6 separate regions of the Homo sapiens genome follow, and regions 1, 2, 3, 4 and 5 are each linked to region 6. The links come from fine-mapping of genetic effects on gene expression. A gene starts in region 6. Each other region holds a variant in brackets. All regions are shown on one strand. Distances are between the middles of the regions.

What was found. PIP is the estimated chance that this variant, and not a neighbour inherited with it, causes the effect. A credible set is the group of variants that fine-mapping cannot tell apart.
Region 1: its variant is the best candidate, but not a certain one, in a credible set for the expression of PPFIA1 in whole blood (INTERVAL, PIP 0.57).
Region 2: its variant is the best candidate, but not a certain one, in a credible set for the expression of PPFIA1 in whole blood (TOPMed, PIP 0.77).
Region 3: its variant is the best candidate, but not a certain one, in a credible set for the expression of PPFIA1 in lymphoblastoid cells (GTEx, PIP 0.60).
Region 4: its variant is the best candidate, but not a certain one, in a credible set for the expression of PPFIA1 in unexposed skin (GTEx, PIP 0.79).
Region 5: its variant is the best candidate, but not a certain one, in a credible set for the expression of PPFIA1 in spleen (GTEx, PIP 0.53).

What each region holds. Positions count from the first base shown.
Region 1 is chr11:70,352,533-70,356,620 of GRCh38, forward strand. PPFIA1 (PPFI scaffold protein A1) reads left to right here. Exons shown (of 28, transcript NM_003626.5): 17 at 1,769-1,920; 18 at 3,107-3,279; 19 at 3,629-3,722. Among named protein-coding and RNA genes, the nearest start is that of CTTN-DT, 44 kb to the right of the region's middle. The variant T/C (reference allele first, on the strand shown) is at 2,427.
Region 2 is chr11:70,235,359-70,239,446 of GRCh38, forward strand. No RefSeq gene overlaps it. Among named protein-coding and RNA genes, the nearest start is that of PPFIA1, 33 kb to the right of the region's middle. The variant T/G (reference allele first, on the strand shown) is at 2,460.
Region 3 is chr11:70,317,112-70,321,199 of GRCh38, forward strand. The region is part of intron 2 of PPFIA1 (PPFI scaffold protein A1); the gene reads left to right. Among named protein-coding and RNA genes, the nearest start is that of MIR548K, 35 kb to the left of the region's middle. RefSeq lists a silencer at 3,321-3,502. The variant G/C (reference allele first, on the strand shown) is at 2,006.
Region 4 is chr11:70,327,784-70,331,871 of GRCh38, forward strand. PPFIA1 (PPFI scaffold protein A1) reads left to right here. Exons shown (of 28, transcript NM_003626.5): 8 at 2,390-2,536. Among named protein-coding and RNA genes, the nearest start is that of MIR548K, 46 kb to the left of the region's middle. RefSeq lists a silencer at 1,589-1,725. The variant A/T (reference allele first, on the strand shown) is at 1,676.
Region 5 is chr11:70,301,000-70,305,087 of GRCh38, forward strand. All of the region lies in intron 2 of PPFIA1 (PPFI scaffold protein A1), which reads left to right. LOC107984346 (a long non-coding RNA gene) reads right to left here. Exons shown (of 3, transcript XR_001748288.2): 2 at 78-166. Among named protein-coding and RNA genes, the nearest start is that of MIR548K, 19 kb to the left of the region's middle. RefSeq lists an enhancer at 1,270-1,769. The variant C/G (reference allele first, on the strand shown) is at 1,796.
Region 6 is chr11:70,269,084-70,273,171 of GRCh38, forward strand. PPFIA1 (PPFI scaffold protein A1) reads left to right here and starts at 1,607. Exons shown (of 28, transcript NM_003626.5): 1 at 1,607-1,831; 2 at 3,090-3,353. The coding sequence starts at 3,090. RefSeq lists silencers at 1,192-1,741, 1,782-2,211.

The sequences.
Region 1 (4,088 bases), 83 kb after region 6:
GCCTCGGGTGGTTGTGAGGTTAAACCAGGGGTGCGTGCAGAGTGCCAGGCCTTGTCTACAAGAGACTGTCGCCTTCCTTCTCTGTGTCAGTGGTGTTGGTGTAGACCAAGAGGACTTCCCTGCTTTCTAGTAGGCCTGAGCTGGGATGGAGGCAGAAGTCTGGCACGTGACAGCACTACAGCGTGTGGAGGGGTGCGGAGGGCGGCGTGTGGAGGGGTGGGAGGGCGGCGTGTGGAGGTGTCGGAGGGCGGCGTGTGGAGGGGTGGGAGGGCGGCGTGTGGAGGTGTCGGAGGGCGGCGTGTGGAGGGATGAGGAGGGCAGCGCTGGCCAGGCTCACGGGGCTTTCCCCAGACCCTGTTACCAGCTTATAGCTGGCTGCGTGTCAGCTTTCTCTGTACTCTGTTTTTGGTTTTGTTTTTTTAAAACAGATGATTGTTTTAACCTGAATTTTGAAACTTAAGCTTCATATTGATAATTTCTAGCTTTGAAAGCCTTTCATTGTTTTGTGATTGCAACTGGAAATTAGGAAAGGATGCAGGATTCATTTGCATTTTAACTGTTAGTTGAGATTCTGTCCTAAATGAGCACAGCTCCATTTTGCATTGAATGCACTTGGTCCTCCCTGAGCCACAGTGGGGCTACAGTAGGATTGATACACTTTACACAATCCCATTTAAGAAGCAGAAATTCAAACTGAGCCCAGTGGTACGTGCTTGTAGTCCCACCTACTTTGGAGGCCGAGGCAAGAATCAGTTGAGCACAGGAGTTTGAGGCTGCACCGCACCATGATCACACCTGCAAATAGCCACTGCAGTCCAGCCTGGAATCACAGCAAGAACCTGGCTCTTAAAATTTATTTTTAATAAAATAAAGTTCACTGTTCAAGTCTTGCTGTTTATAGTAATGCTTGCTGAACATGTTTTATGAAATCCAGTCCCACTCAAAACCAGAAAACACAAATGTATAAGCAGGATCTGCCTAGACCCTGCAGGGGTGAGTCTGTTCACTGTTGTTAACCACCATCCTGCTCCCTCAGCACATGGGCGTATTCACGTTCCACTGCAAAAACAAAAAAACCCTGGGAGTCTGACAAAGATCATCTTGTAATGATAAGCCTAGAAGTATTTTCTTTTAAGCTATATTGAACAAAAATGTTTAAACTGCATAAAAGTGCTTGAATTTATAGTGTCCATCCAAACATTGAGAAATATGAGCCATACACATGTGTATGGGGGTCATGGGCTGTTCCTTGTTTATTTTTACCCCGTTCAGACAAAAAAGGTATTTGACAATTTTGCCCAAGTGGTTTCTTGCCCTCTCTAGTGTTTCTTTTGAAGGACATCAGGAGATAAACGTATTTGTTACTGGCTCTTCATTAGTGCAAGTTAATGCTGTCTCACATTTGTAACGATGTGGTTTATCGGTGTTGTTCAGATCTCTGCTGCCCCTTCAGAGACTGTCCTCATGATGTGCCTAGGATTCCGGGGAGGGCAGAACCTTGGGCTGCATGGAGGAGGCTGAGGATGAGGGGCATACCTGTGTCCTGTTGGGCCCCAGCGCACGCTCGTGGGGAGGCAGACCAGGAGTCTGACAACTCTGTGGTGCTGTGCTGCGTGGCCCTTCAGAATGGTGCCAGACTGAAACAAGACTTTCTGTGCTGGCAGAAAGCACAGCAAATCGATTTTCAAAGAAGTTTATGGCTATAATTTAAGGCCTGAGTTTTTCACAGTCTGCTGTTAACTAACTTTGCACTTCTCTCACCCCTCAGTTGCCACCTTCCAGAGAAGAGGTACGAGATGACAAGACAACCATAAAGTGTGAAACCTCCCCGCCTTCCTCCCCGAGAGCCCTTCGGTTAGACCGGCTGCACAAAGGGGCGCTGCACACCGTCAGCCACGAGGACATCAGGGACATAAGGAAGTAAGGAGCCTGCAGCAGCCCCATGCAGAGCGCACCTGTCTTTTCGTTTCTGGTGTTGAGAAATCGACAAATCTTTCCTTGAGTAAAACAGTGATTTTGTAGAATTACCCATTAATTCAGTTGAGTGTATTTACATGTTACACTTAGAATGCTTACCACTGCTCTGGGCTATAGTGAAATCCAGCAGAAGATGCATATCTGTTTGGGCAAGCTTAGTTTGGAAAGAAAGGAGTTAAATGATATCAGCAAGTTTTGGAAAAACTTCATGTCTTCAGAGTCTATAAATTGACTACTTTCTATTCTTGATGGAGAGTTTGGCAAGCAGATGACAGGCTTGGTATTGGAACCGCTCTCTAGGACAACCCGTGCCTTTCTTGTGCCTTTTGTAAACTGTGGAGAGTTCCAAGTTGTACTTACCAATTTAGTGAGTGTCCCCTCTCAGGAAACCAATCAGCTGTTTTGTTACTAGTATGCTATCTATGCTATCTTTTTTTTTCTTTTTGAGA[T/C]AGAGTCTTGCTCTGTTGCCCAGGCTGGAGTACAGTGGCATGATCTTGGCTCACCACAACCTTCACCTCCCGAGTAGCTGGAACTACAGGCGCACACCACCATGCCCGGCTAATTTTTGTATTTTTAGTAAAGATGGGGTTTCACCATGCTGGCCAGGCTGGTCTCGAACTCCTGAGCTCATAATCTGCCCGCCTCGGCCTCCCAAAATGCTGGGATTACAGGCGTGAGCCACCGCGCCCGGCCCCTCTTTTTTTAAATTCCATTGGATTTCGGTTCTGTGCCAGGCAATATGCAGGGGAGGCATGTATATTAATTTTTGCAGTAACCCCTCAGGCAGTTAACATTGCCACGGTTCTCAGCTGAGTAGAGTAATGCTCAGGGCGGTTGTGGGAGCTGCTGGAGGGGAAGCAGGCAGACCATTGGGCTTTGGCACCTGATGGCGCGGAGTCAGGGCCTCCCCTGAAGGGGAGGGGAGCTCCATGTCAGAGAGAGTCTCAGCTGCCCAGAATGGGTCTCCGCGCTGGCCTCGCCGGGAGTCTGCCTTTATCATGCATGATGCACTTGGTGAGGAAGATGTGTGTGAAAGAGACTGGAAGTGCTTGTAGGGAAGTTTGCGACTGTTAATATGTGAAGTATCCTACAAGGGCACATAGTAAAGATCCGTTTTCTTTCCTCGAAGCTCCACAGGCTCCCAGGATGGTCCCGTGAGCAACCCCAGCAGTAGCAACAGTAGCCAGGACTCGCTCCACAAAGCCCCAAAGAAGAAAGGCATTAAGTCCTCCATTGGCCGCTTGTTTGGCAAGAAAGAAAAGGGCCGACCTGGACAAACTGGCAAAGAAGCATTAGGACAAGGTTGGTTGGTTTTCCGCACCCTTCTCAGCACCCAGGGGTCGGGGAGGAAGGCACTGCCTTCGGTGCCATCAGTTCCCACGCGGTGCTCCAGGAGCCGTGTGCTCTCCAGGGAGCAGCAGCTGTGAAGGCATGGGAGCTAGAGAGCAGCAGTTTATGCTCACTTGCCACTCAGGTACAACACATTTCCTGTCTTGAGCATTTCCGTCTTGGGCATTTGGTTGTCTAGTCAGAAACTTAGCCTTAAGAAATGATTTAAATCTGAACCTGCAAATATTCATCTGCCTATTTATGAAAACATAGAGCTTTGTCATGCTGATTTTTACTTCTGGGCTGTTCTGCTTCCTCACAGCTGGTGTTTCCGAGACGGATAACTCATCTCAGGATGCCTTGGGACTTAGCAAATTGGGGGGACAGGCTGAAAAAAATCGTAAACTTCAAAAAAAGTAAGCTTTGTGTTATTTCTTCATCTCATTGAATGGTTTTCAGTTGTGCCTAAGCTCTAACTAGTGTTTGTTAATTATAATAGCTAGCTATGTATATATACATTATATTCTGAAAGCTTTACCTACAGCCTTAATTAAGCCGTACTTTCTGGAAGATTTAGTGTTTGTGAAATTTCGAAGAAACTCACACTGGTATCCCTATCATCTTGGAAAGCTGTCCAACCAGGAGATAGGGTGGGTGAGAGTTGGACTCAGCTGCCTGAGCACTGGAGTCGGCCCTGGCGCCTGCCCAGGTTCACTTTGTGACGTTGAGGAAGTGGCCTAGCATCTCTGTGCTTCAGTTTTCTCATCTGTAAAGTGGGGATC
Region 2 (4,088 bases), 34 kb before region 6:
ATATGAAACGACTTCAAGGGGCTTTCTTACTGGTATAGACAAAGTCACTGACATGCATTCGTGCATAAGTTCAGGTGCAAAGTGGAGCCCAGACCTTGAAGTCACAGACTGGGGTTAGGTCTAGACTCTCCTATGTATTTGCCAGGTGATCTTGGACAAATGTACTCCAAAGGTACACTCTGAGCCTCATTTTCCTCACCTGAGAAATGGACTGATGTTCCAATGATCTGTTTCTGCATGACAAATCACCCCAAAACTGAGTGGCTTAAAACCCCAGTAAGTCTCTTGTGTCTCAGGGCTTCTGTGGGTCAGGAATTCAGGAAGGGCCCCACTGGGTGGTTCTGCCTGACGCTCCGGTATGGGCTTCCTCCCAACATGACAGCCTGAGGACAGCTAAATTGCCCACTTGGTGGCCTGTGAGTCACAAACTCACCCAGGTTCAAAATCAGGAGAATTAGACTCCAGACTTTTTGTTTTTGTTTTTGAGACAGGGTCTCGCTCTGTTGTCCAGGCTGGACTGCAGTGCTGCCATCTCGGCTTGTTGCAACCTCCACCTCCCCACATCTGGCTAATTTTTGTATTTTTTGGTAGAGACAGGGTTTCACTATGTTGTCCAGGCTGTAAACTCTAGACTTTGATGGGGCAGTGGAAAGGTGGAAAATTGGAAAGGTGGAAAAGTGGAAGAGTATATGGGACAGGAGACACTGCTGCAATAACCTTTTGGGAGATACAGTCTGCCACAGATGATAGCTCTCACGTCCACTGGGAGGGTTACGGATGTAAAGCAACTGGAATATCTTTTTTTTTTTTTTAAGAGATGGAGTCTTACTCTGTCACCCAGCCTGGAGTGCAGTGGCGCAATCCTGGCTCACTGCAGCCTCGATCTCCTGGGGTCAAGCAATCCTCCTTCCTCAGCCTCCCAGATAGCTGGGACTACAGGCTTGAGCCACCACATCTGGTGCCTGGAATATCTTACCTGCCCATAAGGGATCTCTGTGGTGACCACAGCTGTCATTGCAGGTTGGCTGTCCACATCTGTCCCTTCTCTTCCTATCCCTCCTCGGTGCAAGTCGCACCCTGTTTATGGCCCATAGGAATCAGCTCACAGGAGACAGTTGGACAAGCCAAGAATCCATTGGTCCACTTGGAGTGGCCAACCATTAGGCCAACCATTAGGCAGAGGGCAGTGAATGGGGCACTGAGCCCAGGCCAGGTGAATGGGGGGAGGCACCTGGGACCAGCAGAGGATGTTACATGGGAGCTGGGCATTCAGAAGAGGCCTCTCCATCAAGCCGAGTGAGCCCGTGGGGCCACGCGCCCCCACCTCCTCCAGGAGAGAGGGATCCATCATCAGCATGGGGCCTGGGAACCCTAGCAGCCTATTCCAGATCCTGGCAGAGACCGACCACTTGATTTCATCCCCCTTCCAAAGTAGTGGCACTTAATTAAGAATTTCTAGGTCAGGCATGGTGGCTCACATCCACCATCCCAGCACTCTGGGAAGCTGAGACAGAAGAAAAACTGGAGGCCGGGAGTTCAAGACCAGCCTGGGCAACATAGTGAGACCTGCCCCTGTCTCTACCAAAAAAAAAAAAAAAAAAAAAAAAAAATTTTTTTTTCATGAGCAGAATGTGGTGGCGTGCACCTGTGGTCCCAGTTACTCAGAGGCTGAGGCGAGAGGATCACCTGAGCCCAGAAGTTGGAGGCTGCAGTAAGTTATGATTGTGCCACTCACTGCACTCCAGCTGGGTGACAGAGCACTACTCTGTCTCTAAAAAATAAAATAAAATAAAATAAAATAAAATAAAATAATAAATAAATAATTTGGGAAAAGACTTACTACCTAAGAAATCTTTCTCCTGCACCCCCAGGCCCCTGGTTTACTTTCACATCTCAGGAAATAAGAATCATAAAAAAGTCACTTTCCTTGACTGGAGGGAAGAAGGGAAGGCAGGCTGGACCCCAGGCCTCTGTCTCCTCCCTCCGTCTCAGCCATCTGGACAGAAGGGGCCTTTATTTAACCGGATGCTTCTCCATAGTCCTGTCACCCAGAGCTGCAAACTTGTCCTGTGGTCTCTTGTGGCCTCTGACATGTGAATCAGGATCAGCAGTTCTGAAGCTGATGGTCCCCTTCTTTAAAATGGTGGTAAACACATGTAACATACACATGTAACATACAAATTACCATCTTAACCTTTTCAAGTGTATAGTTCAAGGGCCTTAAGAACATTCACAGCTGGGCACAGTGGCTCACGCCTGTAATCCCAGCACTTTGGGAGGCCGAGGTGGGCAGATCACCTGAGGTTAGGAGTTCAAGACCAGCCTGGCTAACATGGTGAAACCCCGTTTCTACTGAAAACACAAAAATTAGCCGGACATGGTGAAGTGCGTCTGTAATCCCAGCTACTCGGGAGGCTGAGGCAGGAGAATCACTTGAACCCAGTGGGTGGAGGTTGTAC[T/G]GAGCCAAGATGGTGCCACTGCACTCCAGTCTGGGCGATAGAGTGAGACTCCCTCTCAAAAAAAAAAAAAGAAAAAAAGAAAGAAAAGAAAAGAAAAGAAAAAAAAAAAGGAACATTCACACATTCACACTGTGGCACAACCATCACCACCATCCATCTCCAGAATTCTGTTCCATCTTCCCAAACGGAAACTCTGTCTGCATTAAACACTAACTCCCCATTCCCCTCTCCCTGAAACTCGCGACAATCAGCAGCTTCTTTCTGTCTCTGTGAATCTGACTACGCTAGACACCTGGTGTAGGCTGAATCTTACATTACAGTCAGACTCCCATGTCCATGTGTCCCAAATCCATGGATTCAAGCACCCACAGATTACAAATATTCTCAGGCCAGCCGCGGTGGTATACACCTATAATCCCAGCATTTTCGGAGGCTGAGGTGGGAGGGTCACTTGACCCCATCTCTACAAAAAAAAAAAAAAAAATTATTATTATTATTATTGAGACGGAATCTTGCTCTGTCTCCCAGGCTGGAGTGCAGTGGTGCGATCTTGGCTCACTGCAACCTCTGTCTTCTGGGTTCAAGCAATTATCCTGCTTCAGCCTCCTGAATAGCTGGAATTACAGGCACCTGGCCACCACACCCAGCTAATTTTTGATTTTTAGTAGAGATGGGGCTTCACCGTGTTGCCCAGGCTGGCCTTGAACTCCTGACCTCAAGTAATCCACCTGCCTCAGTCTCCCAAAGTGCTGGGATTACAGGCAGGTGCATCCATAGTCCTAGCTACTTGGGAGGCTGAGGTTGGAGGATTGCTTGAGCCTGAGAGATCAAGACTGTAGTGAGCCATGATCGTAGCACTGCACTCCAGCCTGGGTGACAGACCACATCCCTAGCTAAAAAAAAAAAAAAAAAAGAAAAGAAAAAGAAAAAAAATGCACAAAAACTTTTTACAAAGTTCCAAAAAGCAAAACTTGAATTTATCATTGCATTAAATCCATGCAAATGAAGTGATGCGTAGACATTTTATTAGGTGTTATGAGTCACCTAGAGATGATTTAGAGTCTACAGGGGGATATATGTAGGTTATATGCAAACACTACTCCATTTTATATAAGTGACTTGAGCATCTGAGGATTTTGGTATCCACAGGAGGTCCTGGAATCAACCCTCTGTGGACATGGAGTTGTATTTGTCTCTTTGTGTCTGGCTTATTTCACTGAGCATGATATTCTCAAGGTTCATCCATGGAGTAGAATGTGTCAGAATTCTGATGCCCCTTTTTATAACCCACATCTTGTACAGTTCTCTTTACTCTCTCTCTCTTTTTTTTTTGGAGACAGGGTCTTACTCTGTCTTGCAGGTTGGAGGTGTTCAGTGGCACAGTCTTGGCTCACTGCAGCCTTGACCTACCAGGCTCAGGTGATCCTCCCACCTCAGCCTCCCGAGTAGCTGGGACTACAGGTGTGTGCCACCAAGCCCACCTAATTTTTGTATTTTTTGTAGAGATGGGCATCTCACTATGTTGTCCAGGCAAGTCTCAAACTCCTGGCCTCAAGTGATCCTCCTGCCTCAGCCTCCCAAAGTGCTAGGGATTACAGATGTGAGCCAGCACGTCTGGACCCTCTTCGC
Region 3 (4,088 bases), 48 kb after region 6:
TTTAAACTAGTGATATATTTGACTTACAGTATTTTTAAACTTAACATTTTTTTTTCCTAAATAGGAAAAAATGTACACTGACAATTAGATTCCTCTGATGTAATAAGGTAGATCATTTATTGCACATATTTGGGGTTCCTACTATTTTTTTTTCTGCAATAATAATGCAAGCAGTACATACAGGAACATGCTTTTGGGATCTTAAACTTTGGAATGTCCCGTCTAATGTTTACCTAAACTGCTAAGTTTAAATTTGCTTTGATATATTTTCAGTTGTTGGATTCTTCTGAGCAGAGAGAAAGGTTTTTTTCTTTAAGTGGAGTAATCATGAACGTCTATGAATTCGTTTTCTACTGTAGCCACAGCAGTATACCATAGAATAGTTTTGGTAGTTGAATATATTGGGAATACTTACATTTAACCAAAATAATAGAAATTCCCTGTATTCTCTTTGGTTTTAGAGGCAAATCTAAAATCTGGAAGTTGAAATGAGGATAGTTTGGGGTTCTTAGGAAAACCTTAGGGAAACTGTATGAAACAGAAAAAGGCTTGCTGCTGGTGCCGGAAGAGTGACAGCGTGCTGGGGGGTTTGTGCATGAGTGAAGGTGGGGCCAGGTGGGAGCCTTCCTGTTTCTGGATGGATGGTCTGTGCAGTAGTAACTCAGGCTGCATGGTTCTTGCATCATCCGAGTTGTGAAGTGCTCTTCCTCCACTTCCAGGTCCTCCTTGTTATGAGGACTTAGGCTTTGACTAGGGCTTTCATTTAAAGGTGACGAAATTTGTTCATAATAGACTTTTAAAAATAAAACACCGATATTCCACCTTCCTGGGACCGACAGTCCTAGGACCCTGCCACCTTGTCAGGATTCTTCATCTCCCCTACTGGTCCATTATTACCCTCCCAGCCCTGCCAGCCTTTCAGCTCCCTTGCCTCTTCCACTTCATTGCGCTTACCTGGCAGAAACCACCCCATTCAGTCCGTTCTCCATGCCCATTCACCTCCACTGACCCGCAGAGGCCCTAAGTGCCGCCAGCATCTCTGTTAGTGCATCCCGCCCTCTTTCTTCTACGCGGCATGCTGCCTACCCGTCCTCTCTTCTAGATGCCATTTCATACCTTCTCCTCTCCTATCTTCCCCAAATGTAAATGCAGAATGATGACATTGTGTTTGTTTTTTTCTGTGTGAAATTGGAAGAAATCAGAAAAGAAGTTCCACCAACTCCCACCACACCTCTGGATCTGCACCCCGCACCCCATGTCGTCTGCCCTCTTTCCCTTTACTGCGGGTGATCTGTGTGCCCCAGAAAAGGTCAGCCTCTCCTCTTAGTCACTTGACTTACCTGCTTTCAGCTGGACTCATCAGTTCCCACCTCCCCACTGGATTCTTGCCCTCACTATGCAAATGTCTGTCTCATCCTGCAAAGGTCTTTCTTGACCTCATATCTTCTCCAGCCACTGCACTGTTTTTCTTCCCCTTTACTGCAGAGTTCCTTGGAAGAATTTTCTGTACTCCCTGCTTTACTTCCACTCTTCCCATTCTCTTTGAACTCAGTCCAGTGAGGGTTTTGACCCGCCACTGCAGCATGCTGCAGATGTCACAGTCACCATCGATCTCCATTCCAGCAAGTCCGACCAACAAGCATCAGTCAGCTCATTTGATCCACTGGCATCAGTGAATACAGTTGATCATCCTCCTGGAAATAAGGATCTTCAAAGATCTTGAAGGGTTTCCTGGTTTTCCTCCTCATCCCTGATTGCTCCTAGCCTCTTTTGCTGATGCCCCTCAATGAGACTGTTGGGGGCTTGATCCCCATCTCTTCTCACCCTCCACCCAGGGCCTCACTGACTTGCATGGAACAAAATGATTATCCCCATTTGCAGTCTCTACAACACACCCAAAAACTCCAGACTGTGAATTGCGCTCAACTGTCTAATAACCATTTCAAATTTAGCACGTCCAAACCCAAACTTTTACACCTTCCCTTCAAAACATACTCTTCCCGTA[G/C]TCACTCCCTTCTCAGGAACCAATGACTCCATCCTTCACTTGCTTCCGCCAGAATCCTTGGAGGCATCCTCGTGCCTTTCTTTCTCTGCGATCTTTGACCTGTCAGGAGCTCCTGCTGGCTCTGTGGTGAACAGGTCCAGAGTCCCTGCTTCTCACCACCTGCGGTGAGCCCACCCTGGTCTGCTGCATAATTGCAGTCATTTCTTACCCATCTCCCCACTTCTGGCCTCACCTTCTCACAGGCTGTTCTGAAGACAGCATCCAGGGGAATCCTTTGAAAACGGGTGAAGGGCACGGCTCATGAGAATCCTTACTTAGGCTCTTTCTTTTCTCTAATATTGATTTTAGTTCAGATCCTCATTAATCCCTGGGATTATTGCAGTGAACTCACTGCTGATTTCCCAGTCTTAATCTCCTCCAGCCCGGGGGTAGCAGTGCTTCCAGCGACCTTTCATTGCTCCAACACACCCATTTTGAGCACATCCCTTATGCTAATGACTGACTGAGACTTTACCAGTTTTGCCCCATTTTCTGTTCAGAGTCCTCAAAGCCTGTAGATAAGGTGATTTCTATAGCCTTCAACATTAAATCCAGGTTTCATGCTGTGTGCTGTTGTTCTCTGAATGGCTGCCCACTTATGACCTCACCGGCTTCCTCCATACACGCTGCCCATGCCCCAGCCCTGCTGAAGCCCTTGCTTATCAGATACCTTCTGCTTTTGTGAAAGAGGCTCTCACTGGCTATACAGCATGTTCAGAATTCAGCTCAATTCAAGTGCTGTGTCCTTCAGCAAACCTTCCGAGAAGCACTCCCACTTCCCATCATGGATGGCTTCAACTCAGCTCCCGCAGTATCCTGGTCACCTCTCACCCAGAGCACGTACTGCTCTGAGGTTCCTGCCAGCTCGTCTGTCTGTTCTTTAAAGCATCCTGAGGAGTGGACAGGCCCTGTTTCTGTGTTGCTGCAGCGGCCAGCATAGACGAGATATGCACTATTTCTTGAAAGAACTGTAACGTCCGATCGAGGTGGAAGCACTCACTTGTGCTTTGATGCATCTCCCCTCCAAACACAACAGTGAAAAGGTACAATTTAAGTAGAGAAACAAACCAAAAAGCATAGCCAGCCCACCAAGCAAGAGAAATACCCTTCAGTACACAAACAGACTAGAAACCTAGCATGGTAAGCCTGAATTGACTGGATTTCACTGGCCACTGAGCCGCAGGCTCCAAGCAGGCAGTGTCAGTAGGAAAGTGGGTTCTTACAGGGGTAAGGGTAACAGGGACTAAAGTGTTCAGTGGAGTTAGAACTAGATGTAGCTACTTTTTTTTTTTTTTTTTTTTGAGACGCTCTCGTCACCCGGCCTGGAGTGCAGTGGTGTGATCACGGCTCAACCTGCTGGGCTCAAGCAGTCCTCCTGTCTCAGCTTCCTGAGTAGCCGGGTCTATGCTACTGGGTCTACGCATGGTGTGTGCCACCATGCCCGGCTAATTTTTTATGTTTTGTAGAGATGGGGTCTCACTATGTTGCCCAAGCTGGTCTTGAACTCCTGGGCTCAAGCAGTCCTCCAACCTTGGCCTCCCAAAGTGCTGAGATTACAGGCAAGAGCCACCATGCCTGGCCTTAGATGGTTTTTGGAGCTGGAGTTAGATAAGGTTTCCCCATCTAAGGCAATTCTCTGCTATACAGATTGGGGCTCTACTGGCAGTTGTGGTCCTAGGGAGGTAGAATGCAAGGCCTGGGATGAGCCATGCTATTCCATGGTTCTCTACCAGGGTCTGCACTGTTGGTGACATAACCACGCAACAGAATCCTGCATCACCATGGAAAACCTAGTTCTGGACGGAGGCCTTGGAAGGCTTGGAGGGCAACAACCACAGAACACTAGTGCTATGGGCTGAATACTTTTGTGTTCCCTGCTCTGCCAAAGTCATATGCTCAAATCCCACTCCCTGGTTTCACTGTATTAGAAGGTAGAGCCCTTGGGAGGGGATTAGGTCATGAGGGTGGACTCCTTGTGAATGGAATAATGTGCTTAGAAGAGACCCCATAGAGATCCCTGGTCCCTTCCATCATGTGAGGACAT
Region 4 (4,088 bases), 59 kb after region 6:
AGAGAGAAACTATTTGATCATGAAACAGTGAGGCTGAGTGCTTTCTCAGGTGCCCTTCCTGTCACTTTCTAACCTGCGCTTTGTCCCTTGTCAGGCGCCTCAACCGTTGAATGTCTGCTTTTCAGTTTGGTAGTTTGACGTTGAGTAATTTCATGTAGGAATTCACCACAGGAAGAACATTTGCATGTAGTATGTCACCTAAGGTTCTATTCTTTGGCTACAGCAGGAGATTATGTGGCAGAGATTAATATGCAGAGAATTTTGAAATTCTTTTAAGACCTATCACTTTTATTTTTTAATTTTTTATTTTAACTTTTAAGTTTGGGGTACACGTGTAGGTCTGTTACATAAGTAAACTTGTGTCCTGGCGGTTTGTTTTACAAATTATTTCATCACCCAGGTACCAAGCCTAGTTATTTTTCCTGATCCTCTTCTTCCTCCTATCCTCCACCCTCCACCCTTTGATAGGCCCCAGTGTGTGTTGTTCCCCTCTGTCTGTCCCTGTGTTCTCATCAGTTAGCTCCCACTTATAAGTGAGAACATGAGGTATTTTGTTTTTCTGTTTCTGTGTTTGCTAAAGATAATGGCCGCCAGCTCCATCCATGTCTCTGCAAAGGACATGATCTCATTCTGTTTTATGGCTGCATAGTATTCCATGGTGTATACGTACCACATTTTCTTTATGGAGTCTATCATTGATGGGCATTTAGGTTGATTCCTTGTCTTTGCTGTTGTGAATAGTGCTGCAGTGAACATACGTGTGCGTGTGTCTTTATAATACAACGATTTATATTCCTTTGGGTATATACCCCGTAATGGGATTTCTGGGTTGGTATTTCCATCTTTAGGTCTTTGAGGAATCTCCACACTGTCTTCCACGATGGTTGAACTAATTTACCCTCCCACCAAGAGCAGGAAAACATTCCTTTTTCTCCACAACCTCACCAGCATCTGTTACTGATTGACTTTTCCACAATAGCCATTCTGACTGGTGTGAGATGCTGTCTCATTGTGGTTTTGATTGGCATTTGTCTAATCGGTGATGTTGAGCTTTTTTCCCCTATCACTTGTAATATTTAGACTTTGCTAACTTTAGTCATTTTATAAATAGGGAACAACTTGAAAATAGTGAATTCTGGGGGTGGAGGACAGGTATTTCTCAAGCAAAAAGTTCTGGTCCTAGCCTTAAGTGTTTGAAACTGTATAGTAATCATCTTGTAGACTTCAGGTAGTTGCATCCAATTAAATTAAACTGGTACTTCTGTTTCCATTTGTCAATATGCTTGAGTCTTGTAATTGTATGAGAGTTCATCCAACCCTTATCCTAGAAAGTGAGACTTGTATCTCACTACTGTGTCCACTGAGAGAGGCCGCACCCTGTCCTGTGTGAGACCATTTGTAGCGTGAGGCAGACGTAGACTGCGTCTTCTTTGAGGACACTTTCACCTCCTTGAAAAATATTTAGATATTTGAGTGTATATATTTTTATAATATTATGTAGAAACAGGAAAGCTTGGTCAACTGAGTGGCCAGACATAGTATTAAGAGAGACAAGTCTTTGTTAATCGTATAGGTGAATATTTATGGTATTTGAGGTAGTTACATTTTCATTCACATTTGAGAAAATTGACATCTTCATCAATTTAATTTTGAGGACATTATTATTTATTTATTT[A/T]TTTTTGAGACAGGATCTCTCTCTGTTACCCAGGCTGGAGTGCAGTGGCGCCATCATAGCTCACTGCAGCCTTGAACTGCTGGACTCGAGCAATCCTCCTGTCTCAGACTCCCAAGTACCTGGGACTACAGGGGCGTGCCACCATGCGTGGCTAATTTTTGTTTCTTTAAAATGTTTTTGGCCAGGGACACTGGCTCACGCCTGTAATCCTAACACTTTGGGAGGCCAAAGGAAGGCCAAGGAGGATCTCTTGAGCCCAGGAAACTCAAGACCAGCCTGGGCGATATAGTAAGACCTCTATTTCTACAAAAAATTAAAAATTAGTTGGATATAGGAGTGTGCGCTTGTAGTCCCAGCTACTGGGAAGATTGAGGTGGAAGGATCCCTTGAGCCTGGGAAGTCAAGGCTGTGGTGAGCCTTGATTGCACCACAGCATTCCATCCTAGGTGATAGAGGGAGACTCTGACTCAAAAAACAAAATAAAATATTTTTGTAGAGACAAGGTCTTGAACTCCTTGCCTGAAGCCATCCTCCCGCCTTAGCCTCCCAAAGTGCTGTGATTATAGGAGTGAGCTGCTGTATCTGGCCTGAGGATGCTAATTTTTAATTTGATTGGAAATTTGGGATTTACTTCAGTTTTTTTCTCTCTTAAGTATCTTAATGTGTAATCGTTAATTACCTACTTTTTTGTCCCCTCTGAAATACCTAATTTAGGCCATGGCCCAAAAGGAAGATATGGAAGAGAGAATCACTACTCTTGAAAAACGCTACCTCGCTGCACAGCGTGAAGCCACATCTGTGCATGACCTCAATGATAAACTTGAAAATGAAATTGCAAATAAAGATTCTATGCATCGACAGGTAATGGATTTTATCGACCTTTGTCTGGCTTTAGTTAATTATTAATGAAGTTAAAGACCCTTTTTCTCTCACTTTCATGTTGGAAATCAAGTCCAAATATCAAGTTTTTATGACCTTAGAATATTATGTTCAAGACATGTGGGAGTTCCTTCAGTTTAGAGGTTTTGATTACGTAGGATTTGATTTAACCAATTTTGTCCTCAGTTTTTTCTTTTGTTGTAATTGAAAGTTAATCTATTGCTTGTTAGCATTTTTACCAAAGGAGCAGAGAGTGGCAAAGAACTTCAAGGCAATTGGCTATTTGTAACTAAGTGGGAGCACTATGATACATGAATAGTATGACAAATGAAGTCTTGGTCGGATGCGGTGGCTCATGCCTGTCATTCTAACACTTCGGGAGGCTGAGGTGGGAAGATCGCTTGAGCCCAGGAATGTGAGAACAGCCTGTCTCTACAGAAAATTAATAAATTAGCCGGGCATGGTGGCATGTGCCTTTAGCCCTAGCTACTCAGGAGGCTAAGGAGGGAGGATGACTTGAGCCCTGGAGTTCAAGGCTTCATTGTGCTATGATTGTGCCACTGGACTCCAGCCTGGGCCACAGAACGAGACCCCGTCTCTAAAATAAAAAATGCGGCCAGGCGCGGTGGCTCACACCTGTAATCCCAGCACTTTGGGAGGCCGAGGCAGGTGGATCATGAGGTCAGGCATTTGAGACCAGCCTGACCAACATGGTGAAACTGCGTCTCTACTAAAAATACAAAAATTAGCTGGGCTTGGTGGCGCGCATCTGTAATCCCAGCTGCTACTCAGGAGGCTGAGGCAGGAGAATCGCTTGAACCCAAGAGGCGGAGGTTGCAGTGAGCCGAGATTGTGCCACTGCACTCCAGCCTGGGTGACACAGCTAGACTCCGTCTCAAAAAAAAAAAAAAGGCAGTGAAGTCTGTAGTAAGAAATTGGGTCTCCTGTGGTTTCGTAAACCATACTTATTCTTGTAATTACGAGTATCACTGTATTCCAGCCTGGGTGACAGAGCAAGACTCTGTCTTTAAACAAACAAAAAAAAAGCTTCTTAAAAGTTATTTAGGAAAAGCAAACACTTTGACAAGAGGTGTTTTGCACATTGAAACCAAGACCAGGAAAGTGGGCATGTACTCCTGGCAGCAAGAAAACCTTACCCAGGCCGGGCACAGTGGCGCACACCTGTAATCCCACCACTTTGGGAGGCTGAGGCGGGTGGATCACTTGAGGTTAGGAGTTCAAGACCAGCCTGGCCAACATGCCGAAGTCCTGTCTCTACTAAAAATACAAAAATTAGCCAGACCTGGTGGCACATGCCTGTAATTGCAGCTACTCAGGAGGCTGAGGCAGGAGAATTGCTTGAACTCAGGAGGTGGAGGTTGCAGTGAGCCAAGATTGTGCCACTGCACTCCAGCCTGGGTGACAAAGCGAGACTATGTCTCAAAAACAAAAACAAAAACAAAAACAAAAACAAAAACCTGACCCAGAAGCAACTCCCATCACTGTAGCTCTTCCATCATGACTCTCTTAGTCT
Region 5 (4,088 bases), 32 kb after region 6:
TTCATTTTTACTAACTGCTGCAATGGCAGTCTGTTGTTTTCTGCCCAGTCACTCCTTGTTCCCTCTCGCCTACATACCTGTTAGAAGTTTTGGGTCCTCTGCGTACCAATTTTCTGATCTTGGCCAAGATAGTTCACCTCTAAGACTGTTTTGCCATCTATAAAATCTGTAAAATAGAGATACTACTTATTACCCAATAAGTAGACTTGATGAGAACTAACATAAAGTATCTACCATGCTAGCCTGCACAAAGTAGACATTCATTTGATGTGAGGCATGTCTCTGCAAACCACTCAACACAGCCCCCAACACAGGGAAGATGGAGAGAACTCAGCTTCCCTGCGCACTTGGTTTTGGTCCTCACCATGGTATCTTCCCCTGAAGATAACATCTGCATTGGGCTGCGAGTCCCAAGCCACTTACTAGCTGAGTGACCTTTGTACCTCTCTAATCTGCCTGGGTCTGTATTCTAATTTGTAAAATAAGGTAATTATGAGTGCCTTACTGGGTTGCTGAGAGTAAAATGTGATAAAATATATGAAAGTATTTTGAAAATCATAAGGCATTAGACAAATATAGTTATTGCAGTTTACATCTTTTGAGTACCTAGCATATAGCACCTTAGAAATATTTTTTTGTTCAGGAAAGTGCTTGAATTAATAGGGGTACTTGTTCTTAAGCTTATATGTCTATTTAGTAAGCTTAATAGAACCACAGAGAGGAAATTCTTAATAAAGGACCTTCGTTTACAGTTGTGTATCTGAATCTTTGGCTCATTTTGAGATGCCTTCTTGTTAAAGTAGAGGGTGAAACCATTCATAGAGCTCTCGTCAGACTGCTTTGCCAGACGCAGTACGCAGCACATGAATGTTTCACGGGACCACCGTGCAGTAATGTGAGCTGTCAGTATTACTCAGTTAATTCCATATGCAGTGACCGTGTGAACATGGCTGCTTTGCTCGGTTCCTTGTTGTGGCTTGGGGTTTTAACAGTGATGGGCACAGCCTTTCAGCTGGGAAGCATGGAGTCTAAGTGGACTCACGAAAGTGCAGTGAAGCGGTGGCTGTGCAGTGGCACAGTAGACAGAATCCAGCATAGCACAGGAAAGGAGCTGGCCAGGTTGCCCTCAGGGGCCAGAAGAGCCTTCCCAGAGGAGGGGGAATGGTTGAACTGAGGGTTGTGAGGTCCCATTCAGCATCAAGGGGATCGTGGGGATGGCAGCAGTGGGAAGAGAGGCTCGATTGGAGGAGGGAGCAGCCAGCAGCTTCGTAGGGTGGGGCAGCCACACTGGTCCTTAGAGGGGATGCTTCCCCAGGGAGCAGTGGGAGAAGGGTGGCTGACCAGGAAACAGGAAAGGCATGGAGGGCTGTGAGCTCACAGGAAGGTGGCTATCCAGGGCTGGAGTGCATTCTCTGAGAGCCTCGTGGGAGGATGGAGATGGGCAGTGGAGTCTGGGCGGGCAGAGGGAGCACACTGCGGCAACAGAGCTGTGAGCTGGAGACAGGGCACTTGAGACGCTTCCTTGGTTGACAATAAACCCTTTCTTTTTATCATTTCTGCCAGTCAGTTATGTCGTTTTCTGGTAGGCAATGTCATGCTTGTTAAGAAAACTGCATGAGACAGAATCAAAAGCTTTAACAAGTCCATTTATATTTATACATTCAGCCTTAGCTGTATGGTCTCGAACACTAGAGTGTTGTGTTTTCTTGACTCATCAGCAGAATATCAGGAATGTAAATGTAAATGTAGCCGTAGATACTCTCAACACCATTTTTTTTTTTTTTTTTTTTAAAGA[C/G]ATGTGATCCCAGTATGTTGCCCAGGCTGATCTTGAACTCCTGGGCTCAAGCAATCCTCCTGCCTCGGTGTCCCAAGTAGCTGGGACTACATTTGTGCCACCACACCACAGGAAGAAATCCCTAATAAGGCGTCTTTCAGTTACAGCTTTATACGTAGACCTTTGATTCCTCTGAGATACCTGTTTATTAAATTAGCAAACTTCCCAATTTTGACCTGACATCTCTAAGACCATGTCACAGGCTGAAAGGAAAGTGGCAGCCCAGTTTTCCTTGGTCTTGCGTATGCTGAGGCTTGAGTTTTCAGTTGTGGTCTCCCATGTCTGTTAAAACACTGGCCAGCGTTCTCAGTTGGCGTACCTTGCATTCTTTCAGCATTGCACTGTGGTTCTAGACCCCGGTCTGACGCAGTGTCGGGCAGCCCTACCGCGTGTTCGAGTGCTGCTCTTCGGTAGCACTTGGTCTAGCAGAATATACCGAGTCCTGTCTGCAGAACCTTGACAAGTCTTGGAAAGCGGTCTCAGAATGCTTACTCACACACATCTGGGACATTTCCAATTTAATAAATGTCACGGAAAAAGTTTGGCAGATTGTTTAATTACATGTAAAAGCTGCTTGTGGCTTTCCTTGCTAATATGAGCCTGAAAAATGCTAACTACAATTGTTATGAAATCAGGGAAAGCTTGTGCATACCCTAAGGTTTTTCTGGAGAATTGCTTACCTGTGAACTCTAAAGCCATTCCTGAGCGGTGCCAAGTGTGATATTGTAGCATAAGAAGAGATGTACATTTGGTCTGTGCCCTGGCCCCTGGCACAGAGCTTCTCAAGCTCCTGGACTCTCTGGAGTACTGAGAGTGTCCTTATGTGCTGATCAGGTGACTGGTGACTGGCTACCCCCTAGGTAGCCTCAAGGTAAGGACTGGTAACTGGAGGCCTGGCACGGTGGCTCATGCCTATAATCCCAGCACTCTGGGAGGCTGAGGCAGGCGGATCACTTGAGGTCAGGAGTTCAGGAGCAGCCTGGCCAACATGGTGAAACCCCGTCTCTACTAAAAATACAAAAATTAGCCAGGCGTGGTGGTGTGTGCCTGTAATCCCAGCTACTCCGGAGGCTGAGGCAGGAGAATCACTTGAACCCAGGAGGCGGAGGTTGCGGTGAGCTGAGATCGCGCCACTGCACTCCAGCCTGGGAGATAGCGAGACTTCGTCTCAAAAAAAGAAAAGACAAAAAAAAAAGAAAAAAGGAGTGGTCACTGGAAAGACCTAGGCAGGATTAGAGGGTTAGGACTTTGAGCTCCATGCCCTAGCTTCTGTTTGAAGGTTGGGTTATCCAGTGGCCAATGATGTTAATCAGTCATGCCTATGTAACAAAGCCTAAAACCCTAAAAGGATAGGATTCTGGGGGCTCTGGGTTCCTGAACATGTAGCAGTTTCTGGAGGGTAGTGCCCTCAGAGGGCATGGAAGCTCTGCACCCCTTCCCACATACTTTGCCCTGTGCATCTCTCCTTCTGCTGTTCACCTGGGTCCTTTGTGATAGCCTTTAAAAAAAAAAAAATTAGAGATGGGATCTCACTATGTTGCCCAGGCTGGTCTCAAATTCCTGGCCTTAAGCAGCCCTCCCGTCTTAGCCTCCCAAAGTGCTGGGATTACAGATGTGAGCCAACATGCTCAGCCTGTGATATCCTTTATAATACATGGGTAAATGTAAGTAAAGTGCTCCTCTGAGTTCTGTGAGCTGCTGCAGCAAATTTAATTGAACCCGAGAAGGGTATCATGGGAACCCTGATTCATAGCTGGTTGGTCAGAAGCACAGGTCACAACCTGGGACTTGTACTTGGCACCTGCAAAGGACTGGGGGAGTGGTCTTGTGGGACTGAGCCTTACCCTGTGGGATTGATACACTCTCCAGCTGGACAGTGCAGAATTGCATGGAATTAGAGGCACACAGCTGCAGAACTGCATGGAATTAGAGGCACACAGCGGCAGAATTGCTTTACACCCCCGACATCTGGTGTCAGCAGTGGTGGTGTGTGTGGAAGTAGGGAAAACACTTTGATTTTTCCTATCCTCATTAGCCAGGGAGGTCAGCACCCCCTCATTTTACTAGAGAAGTGGGGATGTTAATCAAGTGCCCTGCCCTTCTCAAGTTCAAGGTGCCTGAGACACTGGCACCCCTCCTGTCACCTGCATATATTTACTTCATGTTTTGATTGTCCCATCACTGCCAGCATCACCAGGCATGACCACCGTGTTCCAGAGCATGGTGGCAGTTTGTGAGTGACAGAGTGGCAGCC
Region 6 (4,088 bases):
AAGTGCTGGGATTACAGGCTTGAGCCACCGCACCCGGCCTCACCTGGCCATTTTTACACTTTTAAAATAGCAAGAAACTAGGGGCAAAAAGTACATATTCATATCTATGTGTAGTCAGTCAATAAATATTTATTGAATGAACGAATAAATTAATGGAAGGTGTTCCAGATCCTGGTAGGCGAGAGTCAGTCGGAGGGAGTGCTTGTTCTTGGTGCACTCACAATGGAGAATCAAGGAATTCACCTTGGACGGGCTCATTTCTCCCTCTCCTAGGCCCCGTGCAGCCTCTTCTCAGACTTACTAGTTCTGAGGGGCTCCTGGCTGCCTCACACCAACAGCAGTGGCCAGTGGACACTGGCGATGGTGTCCTGACATTTTGGTTTGTGAAGAGTTTGTGCTCCGAGTCAAATCCTGGGAGGAGTGGGGAGGGCATCCGCTTTAATTAATTAGAGGTGTCTCTATTCATCTCCGTATCTGCAACATCTAGCACAAGACTTGGCCCATAGTAGATGTTTAAAAATTCTTGCTGAGGCCGGGCGCAGTGGCTCACGCCTGTAATCCCAACACTTTGGGAGGCTGAGGCGGGCAGACCACCTGAGGTCAGGAGTTCGAGACCAGCTCGACCAACATGTAGAAATCCCGTCTCTACTAAAAATACAAAATTATCTGGACTTGGTGGCGTGCGCCTGTAATCCCAGCTACACGGGAGGTTGAGGCAGGAGAATCACTTGAACCCGGGAGGCAGAGGTTGCAGTGAGCCGAGATGGCGCCATTGCACTCCAGCCTGGGTGACAAGAGTGAAACAACGTCTGGAAAAAAAAAAAAACTTGCGGAAAAGATGAAATGACCAAGACTCGCGCAGTGCTGCCCGTCAGGCTCTCAACTAGTCGCTCTTCACATCTGATTCATGTCTTAAAGCAGCCTCGCAGGTAGGTCTGCATCATTTTCCCATCCTACATCGGAGGCGCTGAAGCCCAGGCGGGTTTCCCGAGTCGCCCGGGCCCACGCTGCAGAGTGAAAGCCACAGCGGCAAAGCCTGCACTCTGGACGCTGCGCCGGGACGTCCCCAGGTGCGGCAGGCAGCGCTCCGTAAGTGGGTCCTGGCGGGAACTCCGTCCTTCTGAACCCAGATCAGGCCCAGGGAGACCGTAGGGGCGCCGCGGCGGGCGGGGTCTGGGTCCTCGGTGGTGACTGAAGCCTCGGTTCGCTCTTCTGCAAGGTGCGAATCCAGAGCCTCCAGCTCGGGAGGGACCTGACGTGCCGGACGCGTCCAGCTCAGAACTCGAGGCGCGGTAGACACTCAGCAAAGGCCTCCGGCGTCCCTGCAGCCGTGGGGGGAAACTGGGGACGCCCGGAGGAAGACGCTGACCCGGCGAGCACCTGAGCGCCCACCTGTGGCTCATCCCGGAGACCGCCCCCTCCCCCGCGACCCGGGCGGGGCCTGGGGGGCGTGGCTCCCGTCTCGCTCAGCCAATCAGTGCCCCGGGGCCGCCTCCCGCCCCCTCCTGAGGAGACAGCGCTTGCGTACTCGGGCCAAGGTGCTCCTCGGGCCCCGCCCCCGGGGCGGTGCTGACGCTCGCGCCGACGCGCTCGACGTCGGGCACGTAGACGCCGGCGCCGCGCAGCCGGGCCCGCTCCTCCTCCGCTCCGCCAGTGTCCGGCCGCGGGCCGGCCTTAGTGACTGGGGCGGCGGGCCCCGGGGCCGCGGCGTGGGGCGGGCAGGCGGACGCCGGCCGCGGGCTGCTTTCGTCGGCTCCCAAGCTCTCCCGGAGCGAGCAGCCGCCCGCGAGCCGCCGCGGAGCCTCCTCGCCCGCTCCCGCCGGCGAGCAAGGTAAGGGAGCGGGACACTGAGGCAGGCTCGGGGCCCAGGCGTCACCGGCGCGTCCCGGTCTCCGCGGCGGCCACGCAGCCGATTAGATGTCTCCGCGGGGAAGGGTGCGCTCCGGGACGGGTGGGGGCGAGGCCGCGGCGCCGGGTCGCGCTGGGAGAGCTCCGGCGGGACACCCGCGCCCCAAGGGACGGCTCCGGGGACTGCGCGCTGCCCCTCCCCGAGCCCCGCGCCCCGTGACCCGGGCGCTGGGGCGAGGGGCGGGGACCTGTGGCCGCTGAAAGCCCTGGCCCGAGCGGGCTCCGTTGTCAACGGTCCTCACCCCCCGGGGTTCGGGGCTTCCGCCGCACCTGATACAGGAGGGGAGGAGTGCGGCTCGAGCAGGCTGGAGGTCACCATCCCCATCAGGTGCGCCGTCTGGGGCATCCCCCTCTCAGGGGTCCACCGCGCCCCCAGTACTGCCCGAAAGGCTCAGAAGCGACTTCCCCTTTCCCTGGCGCTGTCTTTATATCCCAGACACTTAATAGACTCTCGTAATCTCACCTTTCACTTTTCCCTCTTTCCTAGCCGCCCCCGGCTGTATCGACCTGCTATATTTCCATTGTGGATTTTTTTTTTCGGTTGTAAACTTACGTAAGTTAGGTTGACCAACCGTTGCAGCCATTGGAAAACACTTCTACCAGCGTTTAACGAATCCGGTTCCTTTTAGTGCTCACCAAATCCAGCCCAAGAATTCAGGGAGCCGTCAGTTCTTCCCGGGAGCTGACTGCACACATTCCTGCAAGATGCCTGATGGATTTTGTACTTGTCAGTTTTGCTGGTTGTATGCTCCTTCTGTGCTTTTCCTGAAAAATGATTGGGTGACATGTGTTTTGACTTTCTCCCCCCCTACCCCCCCACCCTCCCCACCCCACTGGGAAGTAAAAAAAATAGGTAACAGAAGCACACTTGTTTTCAGCAAAAACAAGTACAGCTTTGCAAACAGACTACCCCAGGGCTTGCCCTTTTTTGTGAGGGTAGTCCTTTGGGATCTTGACCCCTTCCCTGGATTTTTGTCTGTGTTAATGTCTTCATGTTGTGTATTTTTGCACTTAATATTTGCCCTGTGTATGTTTTCCCAGCTTATTTACACACAAAGCATAACAGATCTGAGCATAATGAGACTGCCCATCTTTTTAGCTACAGATACCTGTAAAGTTGCATATTTGTGGGAACCTGTATTCTGAGCTTAATTACTGTAGCCTGGGTCTTTCATTTCAAGATGATGTGCGAGGTGATGCCGACCATCAGCGAAGCAGAAGGCCCCCCTGGAGGAGGTGGAGGCCATGGTTCCGGCTCCCCTTCACAGCCAGATGCAGATTCACATTTTGAACAGTTGATGGTCTCCATGCTAGAAGAAAGGGACCGCCTTCTTGATACACTGAGAGAGACTCAAGAAACGCTGGCCTTAACCCAGGGGAAGTTACACGAGGTTGGTCATGAAAGAGATTCCTTGCAGAGACAGCTCAACACGGCACTTCCACAGGTATGAGTGCTTTTAACCTGAAACTATAGATTTTTCTCCACTAAATGTTTTTTTATTAGTGTCATCTTTTGTTAATGTTTCAGATGAGTATTTTCCGTAACGATTTGTGAAATGATAGTTTCTGGTGTTTGTAAGTCAAATACAAAGTTCCTAGGGATTAAACTTCTTAGGGAGAACAAATCGTTGTACTCTAAAGTCATGTGAAAATACCTCATTATTTTCATTCCTATCTTTGGGAACTGCCTAGGTTCAGGAAGTTCTCCAGAGTTTTTGAAAAAGGGCTCTGAAGCAACCAATCTATTTGGTGCCTCCATTCTGTTGTCTTAAGCCTTTTCTGGCTAAACTTGTACTTCCCATGGATTATCTCATGTATTTCTAATTTCCTAATGTAATTTAATAGACAAATAGGATTGATTTCACGGAAAAAAAAAATTATTTTGATAGCCCACCTTTATCAGAACATCTAGGTTTTGTAAGTCACATTTGTTTTAGGGGATAGAAGACTCGAGATTGATTCCTTAGGAACTTTTTCCTTGGCAGATGAGAATTTTAAAGCTTAGGCCGGGTGTGGTGGCTCATGCCTGTAATCCCAGCACTCTGGGAGGCTGAGGCAGGCGGATCACCTGAGGTCAGGAGTTTGAGACCAGCCTGGCCAACATGGCAAAACCCTGTCTCTACCAAAAATACAAAAATTAGCAGAGCGTGGTAGCGCGCATCTGTAGTCCCAGCTACTCA